3 separate regions of the Homo sapiens genome follow, and all the other regions are linked to region 3. Evidence: fine-mapped expression QTL. A gene starts in region 3. Each other region holds a variant in brackets. All regions are shown on one strand. Distances are from middle to middle. Region 1 overlaps CFAP92 (cilia and flagella associated protein 92 (putative)). Region 2 overlaps RPN1 (ribophorin I). Region 3 holds the start of RPN1 (ribophorin I).

Region 1 (8,272 bases), 300 kb after region 3:
CATGTGTGTACAAGCTCTTGTGTGGACATATGTTTTCACTTCTCCTGGGCTTATAATAGATACAAGGCCAGCTTCTCCCGGTGCCTCTGGGCCCATCAGCACAGGAAGGCAGGTCTCCCAGAGGTGCAATCCCCTTCTGGGCAGACAGCCTCAACTCCGGGACTCCCCACTGCATCCAAGTGGGTCCTGGGGCATCTGAACTCTGAGGACAGATGGGGGCCCTCCAGACTAAAGGACGGAGATCCGATCTACCCAAACTAGTATACTTGCAAATTGTGAAAGGAAGGGAGAGGTGTCATGTCACCAAAACTAAAAAATGGAGGAACTGCAAAGGGCTACCCGCTGCAGCCCAGAATTGGACACTTTAATTATTCACTTCTAGTGTTCCCACTGAGTGGCCCCCAGGTACCCTGAAGGCCTTCAGGGAAGGGCAATTTCCTGCAGCCTAAGCAGCCCCTCCATCTTCAAAATGATCTTCCCTGGGGCAAGGTGAAATCTAATACAGAATATTCTGCTCCTGTTTAGCCACAGTAGCCCTTGGCTCAGAACCCTGAAGACAGGCCCCACTCTCCTGGACCCCTCAGTCATCTTAGATACTCCCGAATTCCTCCCTGGAACCAAAGCCAATCGAGTCTTCAAGTCCAATGACTAAACCCTGGTAAGTACCTCACAATGAACCCCGAAAGGAGACTCACAGACAAGGATGCTAAACCTAGGCTTGGCTCTGAAAGACCTCTCCACTCCCTCGGCATCCAGATGCCATCATTTTTATGTAAAATGTAAAACAAACCACCTACCAGCTTTGGTGGTTCTCCCACAGCTGCCTCAAGCCTTGGTCGGCCAGGCCTTCCAGGATGAAAAGGTGTGTCTTCCCGTCCAGCAGGTGGAAGCCAGTGAGCACATCCAGGTGCTGCTGCTCCTGGACCCGCACACGCACCTTGAAGGCTGACAGGATCTGCTGCAGGGTCCTGACAGGGTAGGAGTCCAGGCCGAGGGCCTTAGCGTTGATCATGGTGATGTCCTGCAGCAGGCTGTGGAGCAGGGAGACCTTCTTAAAGTCAAAGACGAAGATGATGCGGCCAAACTGGGAGCCCCCAAGGTCAGGATCAGCAGCTCTGGCCCCGGCCCTCAGTGGCACCGCGATGTCCACTCGCAACTTGAGCTGGGAGTCAGCCTCTAGGTAGTTGCCCCTGGGCATTGGGCCGTGCTGGTGGCCATCTCTGGGGACCCCAAGCCCCACAACCTTCCTTCTCCTGCTGTCCTGGCCGCAGTGTGTGGGCTGAACCTCACAGCTGTGGATGGGGACGGCCAGATTCAAGTACTTGTGGCCAAGGAGGAGGTCAGCAAAACTGACCTGGGCGATGCCATAAGGGTACCACATCTTGTTCTGGGACTCAAAGGGGTTGTTCTCTGTCTCTCTGGGAGAGATGAGGGCCTGGAAGTTGAGGTATGAATCCAGAGGGTCCTCCCCAAACAGCACGGGCTTCTGAGAACACTCCTCTGACTTGCGGTCCCGGTCGTGAACTTCCACCACCATGGGGGGGCCCTCCAGGTATTCCCTTAGGTCACTGGGGTGCAGTGCCCCAAGGAAGATGACGTTGATGTCCTGGAAATAAACGTGGGTTCCATGGGGCTCCCCCTTGGTCTTGTGAACTGGAGTCTTATGGAACTGGTACTTGCAGTACACAGGCATGCACAGCCTCTACGAGAGAGCAGGGCCACAGCAGGTCACCCAGCCACAAGGACAGTCACTCAGCCCCAGCATGAGGAGCTCAAATCCCAGTGCCAGGCTCATTGCCTGTCCCTGTAGCCCAAGTTTTCTCATCCACAAAATATCCATAAGAGACACTACTGTGCAAGGTCATTACTAGGACTGCAGACATCATGCATGTGAACGCACCAGGATGGCGACTGGCATGAAACAAGGACTCAAAAAGCATTCGTTACTTATTTTCCTCCCAAAATGTGAGTGCCATGAAGATAGGCCATGTGTCCTTTTTCATACCTGTACTTCTAGTTCCTATCCCGAGGCTGGGCACAGAAAAGGTACAGAGAAGTGATTTTTAGAAAGGAAATCTCTGTTTTCCAAATATATATCTGGGGGTCGACACAGACCCCTTTAGCAGAGCCACAGGTGCCAAGCTGAAAACTGACACTCTGGGCAGGAGACAGCCTCAGAGAGGTCTGGGCCTCAGAGAGCACGGAGAACAGGGTGGAAAGGAAGAGCCAAGCTATGCTGAGGCAGAAAGCAGGGACATTTGCATGGTTTGACCTTGGTGCTGAGATTTTATCATCACAAATTAAGCCTTACACAAGTCTGTGGTCTGAATTCGTAATCTAAAGGCACTATTTATTTTACACGGAAGCTGAGAATTTATTCTAAAATAATCCCGGATTGGCGGTGCTCCCAGAGCAGTGGGCAGAGACACAATACCTCTGGAGATAGTCACTTTCAACCTAGGCCTCAAAGAATTCCCATCAAGAAAGTTCCATTGAACACGAGATCATGGTAAAAATCACAGAACACGTAAAGACAAAGGCACTACTAGTGAAATCAGATGCACCAAGGCATAAGATATTAGAATGATCAGAGATATAAAATAAGGATATAAGTTTAAGAAAAGAAAGAATATAATCAAGGTAAAACCTATTGTATTTCTATTTATTTGTAACTGGCTTGGCACAGTTGAGAAAGCCAAATACCAACCACACAATGGAGAAGCTGAGAACCAACCAGATTTTCTCTGTAAAACTCTCAAAAGACTTGGGAATGGCAAACCTAGTATCTCTGGAACTGGCAGTAAAAAGGAACGGCTGGAGCAGGGAGGACTGGGTGCAAGTTCCTTAAGAAGCAATCAGATCCCTAGGTGTCCCCCCAGTGGCTCGGCAGAAGTCTACTAGTTTGCTCTCCATGCAAAATGTAAATAGGGGGTCCTGAAAACTTCAAAGCACTGATGAAAAAAAAAAAAGATGTAAATAAATGGAGAGATGTACTATATACATAGATTGGAAGACAATATAGCAAAGATGTCAACTCTCCTCAAACCAATCAGTTTATAGGTTTACAAATGTAATGCAATTCCAATCAAAATCCCAGCACAACTTTTTGTAGATATTGATAAACTGATTCTAAAATTTGTATAGAAGAGCCAGGAAACTGGAAGAGCTAAAACAATGTTGAAAACTAAAGTTGGAGGAACCACTTCACCCATTTTTACGACTTACTACAAAGCTACTATAAGCAAGACAGTGTCGTGTTGCTGAAAGGACAGACACAGACCCACGGATCAGAAAAGAGAAACCGGAAACAGATCCACACAAGTATGGCTAATCTATGTTTATCAAAAGTGCAAAAGAAAGAAACTTCAACGTAAACCTCACACCATATACAAAAATTCATTCAAAATTGATCAAAGGCTGGGTGTGGTGGCTCACACCTTTAATCCCAGCACTTTGGGAGGCTGACGCAGGAGGACTGCTTGAGGCCAGGAGGTTTGAGGTTTCAACGAGCTACAACTGCACCACTGCACACCAACCTGGACAACAAATGAGATTCTGTCTCAAAAAAGAAAAAAATTGATCGAAGATATAAATGTTAACTATAAAACTATTAAAGCATTGAGAAGAAAACAGAAAAAAAAAATCCTTCTGACCAGGGGTTAGGCAAAGAGTTCTTAGATGTGACACAGAAACACAATGCATACATGAAAAAAAATGTATAATTTGGACTTCATCAAAATTAAAATTTTTGCTCTGCAAAAGACACTGTAAAGAGAATGAAAAGATGTGCTTGTCACAGATTGGGTTAAAAATAAAAGAGAATGACAAGACAAACTACAGACTGGGAGAAAATATTAGCAAATAATATATCCAACAACAGACTTAAATCCAGAATGTGTATGTAAACACACATTTATTATATATATATATTTATGGTGAGACAGGGTCTTGCTCTGTTGCCCCGGGCTGGAGTGCAGTAGTGCAATCATGGCTCACTGCAGCCCCAACCTCCCTGGGCTCAGCTGATCCTCCCACCTCAGCTTCCCTAGTAGCTGGGACTACAGGTGTGTGCTACCATGCCCCACTAATTTTTCTTTTCTTTCCTTTTTTTTTTTTTTTTTTTTTTTTTTTGTAGAGACAGAGTTTTACCATGTTGCCCAGGCTGGTCTTGAACTCCTGAGCTCAAGTGATCCTCCTGCCTCAGCCTCCCAAATTGCCAGGATAACAGGCGTGAGCCACCGTGCCCATCCCGGAATTTTTTTTTTTTTTTCCCTGAGACAGGCTCTCGCTCCATTGCCCAGGCTAGAGTACAGTGGCTCAATCTCAGCTCACTGCAACCACCACCTCCCCAGTTCAAGCAATTCTCCTGCCTCAGCCTCCTGAGTAGCTGGGATTACAGGCACGCGCCACCAGGCCTGGCTAATTTTTGTGTTTTTAGAAGAGATGGGGTTTCACCATGTTGGCCAGGCTGGTCTTGAACTCCTGACCTCAAGTGATCCGCCCGCCTTAGCCTCCCAAAGTGTTGGGATTACAGGCGTGAGCCACCGTGCCCAGCCTAGAATATATATTTTTTAAAACTCCCAAAACTCAGCAGTAAGACAGTAAACAACCCAACTGAAAAATGAGCAAAAATTTGAGCAGAAATTTCACCAAATGGGATGTAAAATGGCAAATAAACACATCAAAAGATGCTCAACATCATTATCCGTCAGGGAACTACAAATTAAAACCATGATATGATAACAATACAAACTTCTTAGACTGGCTAAACTTAAAATACTGACAATACCACATTCTGGAGAGGGTAGGGAGCAACTAGAACCCTTGTTCACTGCTGATGAGAATGCAGAGTGATCAGCCGCACTGGAAAATGGTGGGCAGTTTTTCATAGTCAGGCATATACTTAACATATAGCCTAGCAATTTCATTTGTTGGCATTTACCCTAAAGAACTGAAAACTTATGTTCCTATAAAAACATGTGTACACTGTTTTTAAGCAGCTCTATTCATAATTACCAAAAACTAGAAGCAACCTAAATGTCCTTTGATGAGTGCACGAACAAACTGTGGTACACCCTTGTGATGGAATACTGCTCAGCAATGAAAAGGAAAGAACTACCGATAGATGC[G/A]GCCACTTGAATGAATCTGAAAGGCATTACCTTGAGTGGAGAGGCCATGCACATTGTTATCTGCTGAATCAAAGGTTACAGCTGCATGATGCTGCAAAACACAGAGCCCCATTTACATGACATTCTTCCAGAGTTAAAACTATAGTCATAAAGAACACATCAGTGGCTGTCAGAGGTTATGTGTGTGAAGCAAAAGTGATTATGAAGGGCGAGTACAAAGGAGGGGTTTGGGGTAACAGAACTGTATCCTAACTGTAGTGGTGATAATATTGATCTATACGTGATTTTATTTTATTTTTCTGAGACAGAGTTTCTCTCTCATAGCCCAGGCTGGAGTGCAATGGCGCGATCTTGGCTCACGGCAACCTCTGCCTCCCAGGCTCAAGCAATTCTCCTGCTTCAGCCTCCTGAGGAGCTGGGATCACAGGCACGTGCCACCACGCTCAGCTGATTTTTGTGTTTTTAGTAGAGACAGGGTTTCCCCCATGTTGGCCAGGCTGGTCTGAAACTCCTGACCTGAAATGATCCACCTGCCTCAGCCTCCCAAAATGCTGGGATTACAGGTGTTAGCCACTGCACCTGGCCTGATCTATACATAATTTTAAATTTATAGACCTATAAACCAAAAGATAAACATCAATTTTACTGTAGAAAAATTTGTTTTTTAAAAAAAATAACAGAGGGTCTCTGGAATAGGGGATAGTTGAGGGCATCTGTGCCGTTCCCAAATAGGGAGATTAGGTGACCAAATGCTCACTGCTTAGTGCAAATTCCCAGCTCCTTTCTGTCTGTGGGCATTCAGAATGCAGCAGGCTAGACCCTGACCCCCCAGGCAGGGAACTAGGAAAGCCCTGTAGAACCCAGGGGTTCCCACCAACGCCCCACTCAGATCACCCGATGGTGAAGCTCAGAGCTGAGAAGCCCACCGTGCACCCAAAGCTCGCCTTTTAGGTCTGTGCTCTCTCAGCCATGAGCAGTGGGCCAGGGGATTAACAGACAGTGGAGGAAAACGTCTGACCTGGAAGGTGGAGTGAAACAAACAGGAAGATCAACCTAAAGGAAGCGGACTACACACGTGACGACAGTGCCCATGAAGCAAGCTGGAAGTGCTGTGTCCCAGGCCCCCGACACCCTCAAGTTCAGTGATTCGCTAGGAGAACTCACAGAACTCAGCATGGGTGCAGCGCACTTGTGTCTGTGATTTATTACAGCAAAAGAGACAAAGCAAACAACAAAGGGGGCAGGCACAAGCTGCTGAAGTCCTCTCCCAGGGGATACACACAGGGGGTGCTCAACTCCTCCCTGATGCAGTGCAGCAACGTGTGAAATGCTGTCCACTGGGGAAGCCCATGAGGGACTCACTGCCTAGGGCTTTTGCTGAGGCCTGGTCACATAGCACCCCCTGCCTAGCATGTATGAAAATCTCAGCCTCCCAAAGGGAAAGCAGGCATTCAGCACAAACGATACTGTTTGCAAAAGCCATTTAGGCACAGTGAGCCATTCTTAACGGGGAGTGCGGGGAACCCTCTCAAAATGCAAGTTCCCATATACCAGCCTGGGTCAACTCTGCAAACAGGACTTTTTAAGGACGGTAGTCTCAGGCCCACTCTGTTCACTCTTTTCTGAACATTTCCTAGAAAAAGGATCAATTAGGAGAGAAAGAACAATAAAAACAAGTAGAAGATAGCTGGGTGTGGTGCCAGGCACCTGTAATTCCAGCTGTTCAGGAAGCTGAGGCAGGAGAATTGCTTGAATCTGGGAGGCAGAGGTTGCAGTGAGCTGAGATCGTGCCACTGCACTCCAGCCTGGGTGACAGAGCGAGACTCCATCTCAGAAAAAAAAAAAAGGAAAGCCCAGGAGAGTCAGCATCTAGCTAACAGAGTCCCAAAAAGAAAGGGGGAAAAAAATGAAGAAATAATCAGTGAAATAATTTAAGACAATTTCCCGGTGCTGAAGGATGTGGGCTTCTAGGTTGAAATGGCCCACTGAATCCCCAGCTTCACGGGTAAAAATACACTTACAGAGTTCCTGTTCTGGATCAAGATGGAATAGACACACTTCTAGTTCTACTAAGTACAGCTTTAAAACTCTGCAGGTTGTATATATAAAAAAAAAATACAAAGACTTTGAAAAGTACAGAAAAGGTGTTTAGGGAACATGGGATCCTGGGTCTTCTATTTGCCTCATATATTCCGGACTGAGTGCTGGAGAAGGCAGTATCCAGAAATACCAGTGAGAGTAGGCAGAAAGGACCCCAAGAAAAGTCTGCTTTCTCCATATCAAAGACGAAGAAAGGGACAACTCAGCAGAACAGCAAACTTTTAGGCAAATAACCTCCCTACCCCAGACACACACCATGGAAAAAATCATGCCCCACCCCAGAAACAAAGGCTACATGGGAAGCCTGGACTTCTACCCTCACTGACTTTAACTTGGTGCTCCTTACCTCACTGGGGTAGTGTCAGAAAAGACCTGGTGGGGAGCCAGGACTTTCCCCAACCCTCAATGGAAATGAAGCCTCCCATCATGTATCAGTGAAGTCCACAAGAGCAGTAACAAGATATCCCTACCCACAGGGTACAGTGGCCAAGTGGGGAACCTGGAGTCTCACCTGGCAGTATTGAGATGGTAACTCTCTCATCTCCCCCTCCACAGGCCTGCTACACATGCAGTTTGGTGTTGGAGAAGGCCTGCTACACATACAATTTTTTTCTTTCTTTTCTTCTTCTTCTTCTTTTTTTTTTTTTTGAGAGACAGGGTCTCTGTCATCCAGGCTGGAGTGCAGTGGTGCAATCATAGCTCACTGCAGCCTCAGCCTCCTGGGTTCAAGCCATCCTCCCACCCCGGCCTCTTGAATAGCTGGGCTACAGGTGTATGCCACCACATCTAGCTAATTAAAATAAAAATTAAGAAGGGATCACACTGTGTTGCCCAGGCTGGTCTTAAACTCCTGGGCTCAAGTGATTCTCCAGCACCCAGCTTAAACGTAAGATTCAAATAAGATACAGTCTCATAATGTAATACTCAATATATCCAAGATAGAATTTTTAAAAAATCACCTGTCATACCAGAAAAATCAACTTGAATGGGAAAAACCAATGAACAGACACCAACACTGAGATGATACAGATCTTGGAATTATC
Region 2 (8,000 bases), 24 kb before region 3:
TCAAGGGTAAAGGGGCACAACGTCTGCAACTTAACCTCCAATGATTCAGCAGAAATAATTACACACACACACACGCACACACACACACACACAGTTATTCCTCGAGCCCCCGCCCCCCCGCATCTCCGACTATCTGCACATACTCAAGTCCTGTAGTCAGCCCTGTGAAACCCAAGTATACAAAAAGTCAGCCCTCCACATATTTGGTTTCAGTTCCCTCAAACACTGTATTGAGTACTGTATTTCCTATCTGCATTTGATTATAAAAATCTGACCAGGCACGGTGTCTCATGCCTGTAATCCCAGCACTTTGGGAGGCCGAGGCGGGTGGATCACGAGGTCAGGAGATTGAGACCATCCTAACACGGTGAAACCCCGTCTCTACTAAAAATACAAAAAATTAGCCGGGCGTGGTGGCACGTACCTGTAGTCCCAGCTATTCGAGAGGCCAAGGCAGGAGAATTGCTCGAACCCAGGAGGCGGAGGTTGCAGCAAGCTGAGAGCGCACCACTGCACTCCAGCCTGGGCAACAGAGCAAGACTCCGTCTCAGGAAAAAAAAAAAAGAAAACGAAAAGAAAAAAATCTGCATATAAGTGGACCCACACAGTTCGGCTGGATCAACATCTTTGCTCACAGGTCCTACCAAAACCCCTCCCTGCTGTCTCACAAACATCAGCCCCTCCAACTGAATGCCCTTCCCCACCTTCTTTGCCTGTCACCTCCTCAGGGTAGCCTTGGGGCCTCCCAAGTTGCCCCACTAGAAGCACACCCTTGGTGCGCACCTGTGGTCCCAGCTACACAGGAGGCTGAGGCAGAATCGCTCGAACCCGGGAGGCAGAGGTTGCAGTGAATGGAGATCGCGCCACTGCACTCCAGCATGGCAACAGAGCGAGACTCCATCTCAAAAAAAAAAACACACGCTGTGCCTGTCATCACATTCCACAGTCCTCAAGCACCAGCTGTGCTCATCTCCTCCACCAGGCCTCACCCACCTGACTACAATAAGTGCCTGGTACTAGTGCCTACCCTGGGGCATGGAGCCAAGAGCCCTAAGGAACAATGAGAGAATGAGAAATGGAGGAAGGAAGGAAGAAAAGAGCAAGAGGATGACCTGAGGATAACAGCAGTGCAGCCTGGGGAGGACCAAGGAGCCACGGAGCCTGTCAGGGAGCAGAGAGTGGGAGTGGGGAGAACGGTGCTGACAGGGCCAGGTCAGTGGTTTCTGCTCCCAACAAGGAATCACCAAGGGGGAGGTGGGGAGGGAGAGGGGACTAAGAGGGGACTTCCACCTCCAAGTTCCACTGAATAACAAGAAGCAAAACAGCTAAATAAGCACCAATCTTTTCATGTTTTTCCTACCTCAACTGAGCATCCAAGTTACTCTGTCTCCAGAGCCAAAGCAAGACAGAAGCAGGGACTTAACCTCCTGTGCTAGTGACCACAAGCAACAAAAACAAAGTACCCTTCCGGCAAGGATGAGCACAGGCAGGGGTCTTTTGGCCATGGCGTCCTGCCCTGGGCTCACTGTGAGGATCAGTGCTCAAGCTGGTGAAATATTACCAAGGACACAAATGACAAGCAGGAAGAAGGCAGAGACGGTACCTTGGTGATGGAGAAGTCCAGCCGAACATAGATGATAACGGTGAAGAACAGGATGTAGAAGGCCGCCACCACCAGCAGGGGCTCCTGCAGCATGAGCACCTTGTTGAACGTGTAGTGGACCTGGGAGAAGCAAGAGGACAGGCTTCATCGGGGCTGTAGGGACATGGGAGCCTAGACTCACCCAGGCTGGCCCACTCGACCTGCTGCCCCACCCCAAGACCAGAAGACGCCATGAGCTCAAATGACTCCAGCCCAAGGAGGGACAGAAGGTGAGTTCTTGGCCCCCAGAGCCCACTGTCTGGGGAAGACGCCATGGAAGGCAAACAGTGGAGCCACTCACCACAATGTCCTGAATGTGCTGTTCTACCAGATTTTTCTTGTAGGCAACAATCACAGGGCGGCCAAATGTGTCCAGATAGGTGTAGTGCAGCTCATCTGGGGCACGGCTGATTTCATAGGGACTATCAATTTCAATGTTCCTGGAAGAAGATGGGAATAAAATATAGCCTCCAACCAACTACATCAATAAACCAGATTTAGGATCAGAGAATTCCAAGGCTAAGGAGCCTTTCAAGATCACTAAATTCACACTCCTCCACTCTGCTCCCTTCTCAGCTATGGAGAACACCCACTCTCTTGAGACAGGGGAGCCAGTGCCAGAAAGCCCTTTGTTTTAAAGCCCTTGTCTGCTGGGGCAACAACTGTCCCTCTGAATCCTCCACTCCCAAGTTCTCACCAGTACTGGCCCCACTCCTTGGAGTCACAAAGTTGACACAGCTCTCCTGTACATCCTACCCAGTGAATCCCTGGGAGGCTTGAACAGATGCCTCACGAGCTGTTCTGAATGTTCTTTCTCTTCACATGAATAAGAGCTTCTTACGGGGCAGGGGACATGTCCTGCTTTTGTCTGCCCAGGCCCACTGTCCCTTCTCCTGGTAAACAGCACAGCCTGGATTTGCATGAGGAACTACTCTTCCACTATGGAACATTCTCCACAGGAAGAAAATCAAGGGGTCTCTCATTCTGGCAGTCAGAGTGGACATGTGACTCAAGAGAGGCCAAGTAGATGTTCCCTGATAAAGTAAATCTAGAGAAAAGTGACACAAAGACTGTGCCCCTAGAACATAGGCTCTCCTTAGGGTACCACAAGGGTACAACCAGAGAAATCGGGTGCAAAGGAGAGGAACAGTCACACTCACTTGGCTCCTTCAGGCAGGATGATCTTCACAGTCAGAGAATCTATCACTTGTTCATCAAACACATGGTCCACAAACCTCATCTTCAGTGCATACTGGTCACCTGAAGGATCAAGCAAGCATAAGCAATGATGTGGAAAACGGATCAAATGGGCAGGAGAGAAAGAAGTACAGGGGCTCACATAAAGACAGAGCAAGTAGACAGCAAAACCAAAAACCCACGGACCATGTTTACAACAAAACCAGGCAACAAAGTATCTCTACTGAACCCCACAACACAGAGACAGGGATGGGGGTCAAAACACCGACAGCCACAAGACCTTCACGTTATCAGTGTCTGTGAAGGAGAACGCAGAGAGAAGAAACAGGGCAACTGATGGGCTTGAGAACAGCAGAACCCCAAAACACACAACCGGGATTCCCTAGAGAGCACAGCAGGCCAGTGTGAGGAGTGGCTGAAACTCGGAGCAGTTGTGCCCTGCCTAATGGTGAGTGAAACGGGCCTGCAGAAGGTCTACGAGTCTGCAGCAGTCTAGTCCCTGAGAGCAGAACTCCCCTTCTGGGACAGTGCCCTACAGTGAGGAGAAACTGCTCAACACAATCAAAAATGAACATGATAGGGACAATGGAACTCAAAAACCGCACAGA[G/C]GAAAGCTCAGAAAGCAAGCCACATGTTTTTGCACTAAAATAGCAGAGATCTGGGAAGGTACAAAAGCCACTCTAAACCATCCCTCCTTCGGAAAGGTCACATTAAAAATGATCAACAGACAGTGGCTCATGCCTGTAATCCCAGTACTTTGGGAGGCAGAGGCAGGCAGATCACCTGAGGTCAGGAGTTCAAGACCAGCCTGGCCAACATGGTGAAACCCCATCTCTACTAAAACTATAAAAATTAGTCAGGTGTGGTGGCACATGCCTGTAATCCCAGCAACTTGGGAAGCTGAGGTAAGAAAATCACTGGAACCCAGGAGGTGGAGGTTGCAGTAAGCTGAGATTGTGCCACCGTACTCCAGCCTGGGAAACAGTGCAAGACTCCATCTCAAAAAAAAAAAAAAAAAAGATTAAGTTATATAAGAAAAATGGGATGAAAACAAGAACACCCCTGTAAGAAAATGAAAACATGCCAGCAAGACGCCCATAAAAACGAACCAGGAGACTGCTCCTGCTATTCCAAAACAAGCTAAAGGTATTAATAAAATCATGTAAGTCATGCAAGAACAATGTAAACAATAATTAGAAAAATTCAGGCCGGGCGCGGTGGCTCACTCCTGTAATCCCAGCACTTTGGAAGGCTGAGGTGGGTGGATCACCTGAGGTCAGGAGTTCGAGACCAGCCTGGCCAACATAGTGAAACCCCATCTCTACTAAAAATAAAAAATTAGCTGGGCGTAGTGGTGCATGCCTGTAGTCCCAGCTACTCCAGAAGCTGAGGCAGGAGAATCTCTTGAACCCAGGAGGCGGAGGTTGCAATGAGCTGAGATCGCGCCAATGCACTCCAGCCTGGGAGGTTACAGTGAACTGAGATCGCTCCACTGCACTCCAGCCTGGGCAACAAAGTGAGACAGAAAAAAAAAAAAGAAAAATTCAGAAAAATGATAGAAATCAGGAAAAAAATTTAGAAATAAAAGAGGCATTTTAGGAATTAAGGCTAATTAAGATGGATTAGAGTGAATAACAACAAATAATAATGCTTTAACATAAATGCAAAGAAAAGCAACTTTAATTATTTTTTAGAGACAGGGTCTTGCTCTGTCACCCAGGCTAAAGGGCAACTTCCTGGACTCAAGTGTTACTCCTGCCTCAGCCTCCCGAGTAGCTGAGACTACAGGTGTGAGCCAGATAATTTTTCATTTTTAAAAATTTTTTTGTAGAGACCCGTTTTCACCATGTTGCCCCGGCTGGTCTCAAACTCCTGAGTGCAAGCAATCCTCCCACCTCAGCCTCCCAGAAAAGTTTTAAATGAAAAAACAGGCCTGGCACAGTGGCTTACACCTATAATCCCAGCACTTTAGGAGGCCAAGGCGAGCAGATCACTTGAGGTCAGGAGTTCAAAACCTGCCTGACCAACGTAGTTAAACCCCATCTCTACTAAAAATACAAAAAATAACCAGGCATGATGGCGGGTGCCTGTAGTCTCAGCTACTCGGGAGGCTGAGGCAAGAGAATCGCTTGAACCTAGGAGGCAGAGGTTGCAGTGAGTGAAGATCAAGCCAAGAAAAACAGATGTAGGTATTAACTGCAGATTAATAGATAAGGCAAATTGAATAGATTGAAAAGGGCAAAACTAAGGTATAGTATGTAGAGATATACACTTGGGTGATAAAACTACAAAGATATTCAAGAAAGTGATTACTCAAAGTCGGGGCAATGACTTTGAGAAGGAAGAGGTACATGGAACACTTTTTGAGTAGCTAGCAAATTTTGATTTCTTGACAGGAGGGGGTGGGGAGCGGCACAAGGTCTTCCTCATAATAATTCACTGAGCTATACATTTTTTGTATGGTTTTCTGTATCTTATTTTTCAGTAAAAAGGTTTAAAAAAAAGACTTGGCCGGGCATGGTGGCTGTCACCTATAATCCTAGCACTTTGGGAGGCCGAGGCCTGTGGATCACCTGAGGTCAGGAGTTCAAGACCAACCTGGCCAACATGGTGAAACCCCATCTCTACTAGAAATACAAAAAATTAGCTGAGCGTGGTGGCGGGCACCTATAATCCCAGCTACTCAGGAGGCTGAGGCAGGAGAATCGCTTGAACCAGGAGGTGGAGGTTGCAGTGAGCCAAAATCGCACCATTCCACTCCAGCCTGGGTGGCAAGAGTGAGATTCCGTCTCAAAAAAAAGAAAGACTTGAAAGAAAATATGACAAAATGTTTTCAATCATTAGTTCTGGGTGTTCATATAAAAGTGTTTTTTATTATTCTCTGAATTTTCATTTTTTAAATAACTCAAAAACTATTTAAAGGAATTTCAGCGGTTCCATCTGATGACAGAACTGCAAGTAAGAAGAAGACTTTTACATACTGTTCGGATTGACTATCAAATGCATGTATTACTTTTACAATACTAACTCGTACCCACTTATAAAAAGTTGTTCCTGATAAAACCAGCCTTCCTCAGAATGACAAATGAACACACCCCATCTATAAAGACTGATAATTGAAAGAAAAAAATTCACGAAATTAAAGAAAAGGTTAGTTTCTCCCTTACTATTGAAGACTGACCCAAATTATAGAGGTACTCATAGCTTGGGAGGTTGTAGCCAACGATGTAATGGGTCTTCCACCCGCCAAAGAGAGGGAAGCGAGGCCGGATTTCCATCTCTACAGAGTCATCCAAAATAAGGAGGTGGCTGGTAGAAACATTGCCAATCTCATCCCGGTAATAAACATCCTGGGCAGCAGCAGGAAGGATGGTCTGCAAGAGAGTGGATATGCCCTTCTAAAACTCCAGGAACCAGCTGAGAGGAAATGATCCTAAACACAGAAGACTTCCTGCACCAAGATCCTCACATGGTACTACTTAATTAAAATAGTCCCCAAACATAAACAACCTAAAAAAGTCTAACTTTCCCCACAAAGGTTTGCGTCGACTTCTCAATCAAGGGTGCTAACTACCCAAATTCTTCTAAACAGTAAATAATTAAGGGAAATGCAAATACCTTTGTGAACATTGAAGACTTAATACAAAGGTAAAAATAATCTTGCAAGTTATTTTGCAGAGAAGAAAAGTAAAGATAGAAGACGGAAGAAATTTCATCAAATTACTAGGTGGTAGGGTTACAGAAAGGGTTTTTCTACCTGATATACTTTATTGTATCTTCCAAATCTGTCAGTGTATTTTGATCATGGGAGGAAGGTATAATACCTTTGTTCACATACTGACCCCTTCTATCATACATAAGTAAAAAAAAAAGTTTATAAGATTTCATTTATGGGACAAAAAAGATTTAAAAACTGTATATGCAATATGATAAAATGTTTTTTAAAAACACTACAAAAGAACAAAGAAATAGATCAAAATGACAGCTGTGTTTGGGTGGCGCAGTACTATGAATATGCTTTTCCTTTTTCTATTCAAATTTTCACTTAAAAAATATGGTTTAGGCCGGGCACGGTGGCTCACGCCTGTAATCCCAGCACTTTGGGAGGCCGAGGCGGGCGGATCACAAGGTCAGAAGATCGAGACCATCCTGGCTAACATGGTGAAACCCCGTCTCTACTAAAAACACAAAAAATTAGCTGGGCATGGTGGCGGGCGCCTGTAGTCCCAGCTACTCGGGAGGCTGAGGCAGGAGAATAGCATGAACCCGGGAGGCAGAGCTTGCCGTGAGCCGAGATCGTGCCACTACACTCCAGCCTGGGCAATAGAGCGAGACTCTGTCTCCAAAAAAAAAAAAAATATATGGTTTAGGCTGGGCATGGTGGCTCACGCCTGTAATCCCAGCACTTTGAGAGGCCAAGGCGGCCGGGCGCGGTGGCTCATGCCTGTAATCCCAGCACTTTGGGAGGCCGAAGTGGGCGGATCACCTGAAGTCAGGAGTTCGAGACCAGCCTGTCCAACATGGAGAAACCCTGTCTCTACTAAAAATACAAAAAAAAATTAGCCAGGCTTGGTGGTGCATGCCTGTAATCCCAGCTACTCGGGAGGCTGAGGCGGGAGAATTGCTTGAACCTGGGAGGCGGAGGTTGTGGCGAGCCGAGATCGCGCCATTGCCCTCCAGCCTGGGCAACAAGAGCAAAACTCCGTCTCAAGAAAAAAAAAAAAAAGAAAGAGAAGCCAAGGCAGGTGGATCACTTGAGGCCAGGAGTTCAAGACCAGCCTGGCCAACATGGTGAAATCCTGTCTCTACTAAAAATACAAAAATTAGCCAGGTGTAGTGGTGCATGCGTGTAATCCCAGCTATTCAGGAGTCTGAGGCAGAAGAATCACTTGAACCCAGGAGGCGGAGGCTGCAATGAGCAGAGATCACGCCACTATGCTCCAGCCTGGGTGGCAGAGTGAGACTCTGTCTCAAAGAAAAAAAAGAAAATGGCTTATCTATATATATGGGGGGGTATTTTTTAAGATTCTGTTGGTTTCTAACACTGCCAATCAACAAGATGAACATCAGTCAACCCTAAACAACTGCCTAAATATTTAGCTAGTTTCGAAAAGCAAAGAATAGGTAGCTGTGATAAAGTCCTCATTTCTCACAATGTCCA
Region 3 (8,237 bases):
ATCATCCTCAATAAAGCTGTACAGTCTAATACAAACAAGTTTCATTACTTTGACTAGAATCTTATCACAGTGGGAATATTCCAGCCAGGCCAAGTGCAGTGGCTCACACCTGTAATCCCAACACTTTGGGAGGACTGCTTGAGGCTAGGTGTTGAAGACCAGCCTGGGCAACACAGCAAGACCCCATCTCTGAAAAAACAAAAAATTGCTCTTAATTAGCCAGGCGTAGTGGTGCGCACATGTAGTCCTAGCTACTCAGGGGGCTAGGTGGGAGGATAGCTTGAGCCCAGAAATTCGAGGCTGCAGTGAGCTCTGACTGGGCCACTGTGCTCTACCCTGGGGAACAGATTGAGAACTTGCCTCAAGAAAAAAAAAAAAAAAAGGAACATTCTAGTATATGTGTGTGTATCAGGAACTCTCATTGTGTTCAGTTATACAGACTTATTTGTTTTATTGAAAAATATTGTTACTTAATAAAATATTAGCATGCCAAAATATTTCAGATACAGGATCCAAAAGAGAGGAAAAATCATTAGATGGGTCCTTGGTGGTAAAAAGAGAAGCAACCACTGGCTCCTAGTCAGTAACCACCATGGTCCCTTCTGCTAGCTCCTAAAATTCTACAAGGGTTTGAAAATAACCCACTGAAGGCCAGGAATGGTGGCTCACGCCTGCAATCCCAGCACTTTGGGAGGCCGAGGCAGGTAGATCACCTGAGGTCAGGAGTTCGAGAGCAGCCTGACCAATATGATGAAACCCTGTCTCTACTAAAAATACAAAAATTGGCCGGGCGCAGTGGCTCACACCTGTAATCTCAGCACTTTGGGAGGCCGAGGTGGGCGGATCATGAGGTCAAGAGATCAAGACCATCCTGGCCAACATGCGTGAAACCCTGTCTCTACAAAAAAAATACAACAATTAGCTGGGCGTGGCAGCACGCGCCTGTAGTCCCAGCTACTCCGGAGGCTGAGGCAGGAGAATCACTTGAACCTGGGAGGCAGAGGTTGCAGTGAGCCGAGATTGCACCACCGCACTCCAGCCTGGCGACAGAGCAAGACTCTGCATCAAAAAAAAAATACAAAAATTAGCCAGGCGTGGTGGCATGCACCTGTAATCCCAGTTACTCCAGAGGAGAGACAGGAGAATTGCTTGAACCCAGGAGGCAGAGGTTGCAGTGAGCCAAGATAGCGCCATTGCACTCCAGCATGGGCAACGAGAGTGAAACTCCGTCTCAAAAAAAAAAAGAAAAAGAAAAGAACCCACTGAAAAACATTTCAGCAACCTCATCAGTTTCCAACACAACTGTTGGAAAATATACATCTCCTTGTTAAGTTTATCATCCAGTTGTTTCCCACTGGGATAGGAGTACAAAATAGCACATATATCCATTTAACTGGTGTCTTGGACTACAAAATTGAAAATGATTTTAAATAAATCTGTTAATGTGACTGCAAGTCTTATACCCAATACAATCCTATCTCACAGCCATAAAAGCCAGAAGAGGCAACATTATACAGTGTGAGAACACACAACTTACGGAATAAGCTGGAGCCCTGACTTACTCTGCACTGTAAGACCGCATGTAAGGGGCTAAATAACTTAACCTGACAGACTACAGCCTCCTTGCCTGCTATATGAGGATTTATACCTTAAATGGTTGCTATGAGGGCTAAATGAGAATATATTTAAAATACCCACCATAATATCTGACACACAGTAGAGTCCCAGTAAGAAAGTATCTTACCACAGAAACAAACAAACTAAAGGACAAAAGGAAACTTCTGGAGGTGACAGATATGTTTATTACCCGGATTGTGGTAATGGTTACACCAGTGTATACGTATTTTGAATATACTAATAATAGGCAGTTTTTTGTATACCAATTATACCTCAATAAAGTTGGGAGAAAAAATAAAAACAAGATAAAATAAGTACATTAACCTAGCTCGCAGGCATGATGGCAGGATAGCCGAGCTCCTGCTGTGGTCCACTTATACTGTAACAAGCTCATTAAATCACAACTGGCTTCTATAAAGAACGGGATTTAACATTCAAGACATTCAAAGATGGCAAGGCAAATTTACATGAAGTTTTGATCTATCTTTCCACAAGCCTTTGAGTAAAACTTTATTTCATCATGGACAACGCATGAAAGAAAATAGGAGTCATTTCAGAAACGTAATCTCTATAAACCCATCTTTATAGCTCCATATTCAGTCAGAGAACGAAGTGTGCTTAGAAGAAATGTGACACTATAATGACTATTCTCTCAACAAATAATTAGGTAATCATTTAATGAAATTGTTTAACAACAATAGTAATAAAAACCAAACCTCTGTGTATGTACATTCCCTTTACTCCCAAACCCAACATTTTCTTTGGTGATCACTGAAATACCTGGAAACATTTAAGCCAAACACAGCCATTTATTGCCGAGGTGTAAGAATGAGAAGCAGCAGGGGGAAGGGAGAAAATTGGACTTTCCTTTTCTGTACAGCATAAGAGAACTTATATTACGTGCAGGAGTTTTAAAACTAACTTTAAAAAGAGTTTTAACATTTAGAAAGCGTTCACTAGGAACCTTAAAATGCATCACATTCATAGGGATTTCAAGTGATTACCAACTTAAAAATGCGAAACCTGTTACATTTCTGATGGTTCTCTATGTCTAGAAAGAAGCACCTACAACGGACCAGATACTGAATTAAGAGAATGAAATTCACTTTAATTCATTTATTTGTCCTCTACTTGAGCCACCTCGTCGGGCCGTGAGAAATGAAGTCTGGCGCCCGCTGGCACCGGGCCGAGGGGCTGCCGCGCTCGCCTTACGGAAGGGAGGTGCGTTCTACCGGCCCGAGGTCTCCCGAGCGGTGCCGAGAACGGCCCAAACAGGGGCAAGCTCCGAGGCTGGTCGGCCGCGGATCCCAGCAGCTGCCCACGTGAGCAGCGACCCGCGCGGGGGCAGGCCGGTGCTGACGTGGCCCAGGCAGGAGGGCGGGCGCGCACCGGGGGCAGCGGAGGCGCCGGGGCCCCTGGCCACCCAGGACTCCTCGCGGGCCCCGAGGCAATCCCACGGACCCCCTGTGCCCCGCCCGCCGCCCGGGTCTCCGCATTTCCTGAGGCCTAGAGGGGCGCGGGCGGAGTCGGGGGACCGCCAGGAAGGGAGGCGGGAAGGGTCCCGGGAGCGGCGGCGAGGGGTCGCCCACACTCACCTGCACGCCCAGGTGCGCCAGCCGGGCCTCGAGCTCAGGCTCCAAAGCCAGCAGGAAAGAGGTAGCTCGGGACGTGGAGCCGCCGCCCAGGTGCGCCAGGACCACCTCGGCCGTCACCTTAGCCAGGTGGCTGCTTAGGTCCACTGTGCGCTTCACGTCCTCATTGATCAGCGGCGGTGCCTCGGAGGAGGCGCTGCCCGGCGCCGGGGCCCAAGTCCCAAGCAACAGGAGCAGAAACAAGCCGGCGGCTGGCGCCTCCATGACCGGGAAGAGCAGTGCGCCAGGGCGGGTAGGGCCCGGGCGCGGTAGCCCGCCCTCCCGCCACTGAGCAGCCGTTCATTGGGCAAGGGCTGGTGACACAAGATGGCGGCGCCGAACAAGGAAGGACCCTGTCTCCGGGGCAACCGGGAAGCCGACCCGGCGCCTGATTGCTAAAGCCCTCTCAGAGCTGCTCGGGATATCCTTCTGTTCGTAGTGCGAGTGTACTTACTTTTTTTTTTTTTTTTTTTTTTTTTTTTTTTTTTTTTTGAGACGGAGTCTCGCTCTGTCGCCCAGGCTGGAGTGCAGTGGCACGATCTCAGCTCACTGCAAGCTCCGCCTCCCGGGTTCACACCATTCTCCTGCCTCAGCCTCCCGGGTGGCTGGGACTACAGGCGCCCGCCACCACGCCCGGCTAATTTTTTTTTATATTTTTAGTAGAGATGGGGTTTCACTGTGGCCTCCATCTCCTGACCTCGTGATCCGCCCACCTCGGCCTCCCGAAGTGCTGGATTACAAGCGTGAGCCACTGCGCCCAGCCGCGAGTGTACTTATTATTACTAGTTTTCACTTACCTAATTTTTACAGGAGCGGCCCTTGCCTAGGTCTCTACTCTCTCCTACCATTCTTCCTGTCCAATAATTCTGCTCGTTTTGCTCCTTAAAACAGTGAAATTTTGCTCAGATTGAGAAAGTAAAAGTTGGCCTTCCCCAACATCCACGGATGAATGCTAAAATTAGTAGGCAGAACTTGAAGCCGAAACAGGATATATGCAAAGTTTCAAAACATCTCTACTAAAATGTTTAGTAATTAGGCCGGGCACGGTGACTCACGCCTGTAATTCCAGCGCTTTAGGAGGCCGAGGCGGGTGGATCACCTGAGGTCAGGAGTTCGAGACCAGCCTGGCCAACATGGTGAAACCCCGTCTATACTAAAGATACAAAAAATTAGCCGGGCGTGGTGGCAGGCGCCTGTAATTCCAGCTACTTGGGGTGGCTGAGGCAGGAGAATCGCTTGAACCTGGGAGGCGGAGGTTGCAGTGAGCTAAGATCGCGCCATTGCACTCCAGCCTAGGCGACAGGGTGAGACTCCTTCTCAAAATAAATAAATAAATAAATAAAATAAAATTAGCCGGGTGTGGTGGTGCGTGCCTGTAATCCCAGCTACTCCAGAGGCTGAGGTACCAGAATCATTTGAACCCGGGAGGCAGGAGATGCAGTGAGCCAAGATCGTGCCACTGCACTCCAGCCTGGGCGACTGGGCGAGACTCCCTCTCAAAAGGAAATTAAAAAATAAAAATAAAATGTTTAGTAATTACAAAGGAAAAAATAGTTTACAGTGGAGAATCCTGGCAGGCACCACTTTAAACAAGTGATCAAAGTTAACATCACCACATATAAAATATAGTAACATTAGGTATCTACTAATAGGATCCATTGAGAAAGGCACATCACTTCTGTGGTATTGCCACAAAATTATTGAAAATCCATTACCTCAATCTAGTCATAAATATCAGACAAGGCCAGGCACAGTGGCTCATGCCACCAATCCCAGCACTTTGGGAGGCCAAGTAGGGAGGATCCCTTGAGCCAAGGAGTTCAAAACTAGACCGGGCAACAGGGTAAAACCCCATCTCTACAAAAAATCAAAAATCAGCCGGGCCTGGTGACAAGTGCCTGTGTTACAGGAAAGGGGTCTGGATCCTGACCCCAAGAGAGGGTTCCTGGATCTCACGCAAGAAAGAATTCAGGATGAGTCCGCAGTGCAAAGTGAAAGCAAGTTTATTATTTTTTATTTTATTTATTTATTTATTTGAGATGGAGTCTCGCTCTGTTGCCCAGGCTGGATTGCAGTGGCGCAGTCTTGGCTCACAGCAACCTGTGCCTCCCGGGTTCAAGCAATTCTCTGCCTTAGCCTCCCAAGTAGCTGCGATTACAGGCGCCCGCCACCACGCCCGGCTAATTTTTGTATTTTTAGTAGAGACGGGGTTTCAACATCTTGGCCAGGCTGGTCTTGCACTCCTGACCTCGTGACCCACCTGCCTCAGCCTCCCAAAGTGCTGGGATTACAGGCATGAGCCACCGCCCCCAGCCAGCAAGTTTATTAAGAAAGTAAAAGAATAAAAGAATGGCTACTCCATTGACAGAGCAGCCCGAGGACTGCTGGTTGCCCATCTTTATGGTTATTTCTTGATGATATGCTATACAAGGGGTGGATTATTCATGCCTCCCCTTTTTAGACCATATAGGATAACTTCCTGATGTTGCCATGGCATTTGCAAACTGTCATGGCGCTGGTGGGAGTGTAGTAGTGAGGACTCATTGCCATTTTGGTTTTGGTGGGTTTTGGCCGGCTCCTTTACCGCAACCTGTTTTATCAGTAAGGTCTTTATGACCAGTATTTTGTGCCGACCTTCTATCTCATCCTGTTGAGAGGTGACAGCGTGCGCCCTCCCTCGCTCTCGGCGCCTCCTCGGCCTTGGCGCCCACTCTGGCCGCGCTTGAGGAGCCCTTCAGCCCACCGCTGCACTGTGGGAGCCCCCTTCTGGGCTGGCCAAGGCCGGAGCCGGCTCCTTCAGCTTGCAGGGAGGTGTGGAGGGAGAGGCGCGAGCGGGAACCGAGGCTGCGCACGGCGCTTGCGGGCCAGCTGGAGTTCTGGGTGGGCCTGGGCTTGGCGGGCCCCGCACTCGGAGCGGCCGGCCGGCCGGCCCTGCCAGCCCTGGGCAATGAGGGGCTTAGCACCCCGGCCAGCGGCTGCGGAGGGTGTGCTGGGTCCCCCAGCAGTGCCGGCCCACGGGCGCTGCACTCGATTTCTCGCCGGGCCTTAGCTGCCTCCCCGCAGGGCAGGGCTCGGGACCTGCAGCCCGCCATGCCTGAGCCTCCCCCTCCTCCGTGGGCTGCTGTGCGGCCCCAGCCTCCCCGACGAGCGCCGCCCCCTGCTCCAAGGCGCCCAGTCCCATCGACCACGCAAGGGCTGAGGAGTGCGGGCGCACGGCCGGGGACTGGCAGGCAGCTCCCCCTGCCGCCCGGGTGCAGGATTCACTGGGTGAAGCCAGCTGGGCTCCTGAGACTGTTGGGGACTTGGAGAATCTTTATGTCTAGCTAAGGGATTGTAAATACACCAATCGGCAGTCTGTATCTAGCTCAAGGTTTGTAAACACACCAATCAGCACCCTGTGTCTAGCTCAGGGTTTGTGAATGCACCAGTTGACACTCTGTATCTAACTACTCTGGTGGGGACTTGGAGAACCTTTGTGTGGACACTCTGTATCTAGCTAATCTAGTGGGGACGTGGAGAACCTTTGTGTCTAGCTCAGGGATTATAAAGACACCAATCAGCACACTGTCAAAACAGACCTCTCCCCTCTCTGTAAAATGAACCAATCAGCAGGATGTGGGTAGGGCCAGATAAGAAAATAAAGGCAGGCTGCCAGAGCCAGCAGTGGCAACCCGCTGGGGTCTCCTTCCACACTGGAGAGTTTGTTCTTTCGCTCTTGGCAATAAATCTTGCTGCTGTTCACTCTTTGGGTCCACGCTGCCTTTATGAGCTGTAACACACACCACGAAGGTCTGCAGCTTCACTCCTGAAGCCAGCGAGACCACAAACCTACCGGGAGGAACGAACAACTCCAGACGCGCCTCCTTAAGAGCTGTTAACACTCACCGCGAAGGTCCTCCGCTTCACTCCCGAGCCAGCGAGACCACGAACCCCACCAGAAGGAAGAAACTCCGAACACATCCAAACATCAGAAGGAGCAAACTCCAGACACGCCACCTTTAAGAACTGTAACACTCACCGCAAGGGTCTGCGGTTTCATTCTTGAAGTCAGTGAGACCAAGAACCCACCAATTCCCAACACGCTGTGACTTAAAATGCCTTAACTGTATGGGAATGCAGCTCACAGGTTTCAACCTCGTTTTACCCAGTTCCTATTCAGGATGGAGTTGTTGTCGTTCACATGCCTCTGACACCTGTAGTCTCCGCTACTTGAGAGGCTGAAGCAGGAGGATCACTGGAGCCCCGGAGATCAAGGCTTCAGTAAGCTATGTTCATGCCGCTTCAGCCTGGGTGACAGCAAGACCCTGTCTCAAAAAACAAAACAAGGCTGGGCATGGTGGCTCATGCTTGTAATCACAGCACTTTGGAAGGCCAAGGCAGGAGGATTGCTTGACCCCAAGGAGTTTGAGACCAGTCTGGACAACATAGCAACATTCTATCTTTACAAAAAATATTTTAAATTAGCCTAGTGTGGTGGCATGCCCCTGTAGTCCCAGCTACTCAAGAGGCTGAAGTGGGAGGATCACTTGGGCCTGGGAGGTTGTAGCTGCAGTGAGCTGTGATCATGACACTGCACTCCACCCTGGATGACAAAGTGAGACTTTGTCTCAAAAAAAAAAAAAAAAGAAAAAAGAAGGCCGGACGCCATGGCTCACGCCTGTAATCCCAAAACTTTGGGAGGCTGTGGCAGGCAGATCACCTGAGGTCAGGAGTTCAAGACCAGCCAGGCCAACATGGTGAAACCCCGTGTCTACTAAAAATACAAAAAATTAGCCAGGTATGGTGGCACACACCTGTAATTCCAGCTACCTGGGAGGTTGAGGCCGGAGAATCATTTGAACCCAGGAGACAGAAGTTGCAGTGAGCCAAGATCATGCCACTGCACTCCAGCCTGGGTGACAGAGCAAGACTCCATCTCAAAAAAATAGTAATAATAAAAAAAATAGATAAAATCAGACAAACCAAAATTGAAGAAAATTCTACAAAATA

The links. PIP is the estimated chance that this variant, and not a neighbour inherited with it, causes the effect.
Region 1: its variant is the best candidate, but not a certain one, in a credible set for the expression of RPN1 in whole blood (TOPMed, PIP 0.73).
Region 2: its variant is the best candidate, but not a certain one, in a credible set for the expression of RPN1 in whole blood (TOPMed, PIP 0.64).

What each region holds. Positions count from the first base shown.
Region 1 is chr3:128,944,274-128,952,545 of GRCh38, forward strand. It overlaps CFAP92 (cilia and flagella associated protein 92 (putative)), which reads right to left. Exons shown (of 16, transcript NM_001394090.1): 10 at 798-1,702. Among named protein-coding and RNA genes, the nearest start is that of CFAP92, 46 kb to the right of the region's middle. The variant G/A (reference allele first, on the strand shown) is at 5,130.
Region 2 is chr3:128,623,931-128,631,930 of GRCh38, forward strand. It overlaps RPN1 (ribophorin I), which reads right to left. Exons shown (of 10, transcript NM_002950.4): 5 at 6,021-6,213; 6 at 2,803-2,902; 7 at 1,944-2,082; 8 at 1,604-1,723. Among named protein-coding and RNA genes, the nearest start is that of RPN1, 23 kb to the right of the region's middle. The variant G/C (reference allele first, on the strand shown) is at 3,448.
Region 3 is chr3:128,647,328-128,655,564 of GRCh38, forward strand. RPN1 (ribophorin I) reads right to left here and starts at 3,491. Exons shown (of 10, transcript NM_002950.4): 1 at 3,213-3,491. The coding sequence starts at 3,473. RefSeq lists enhancers at 2,715-2,784, 3,455-3,724, 3,885-3,964 and a silencer at 2,935-3,204.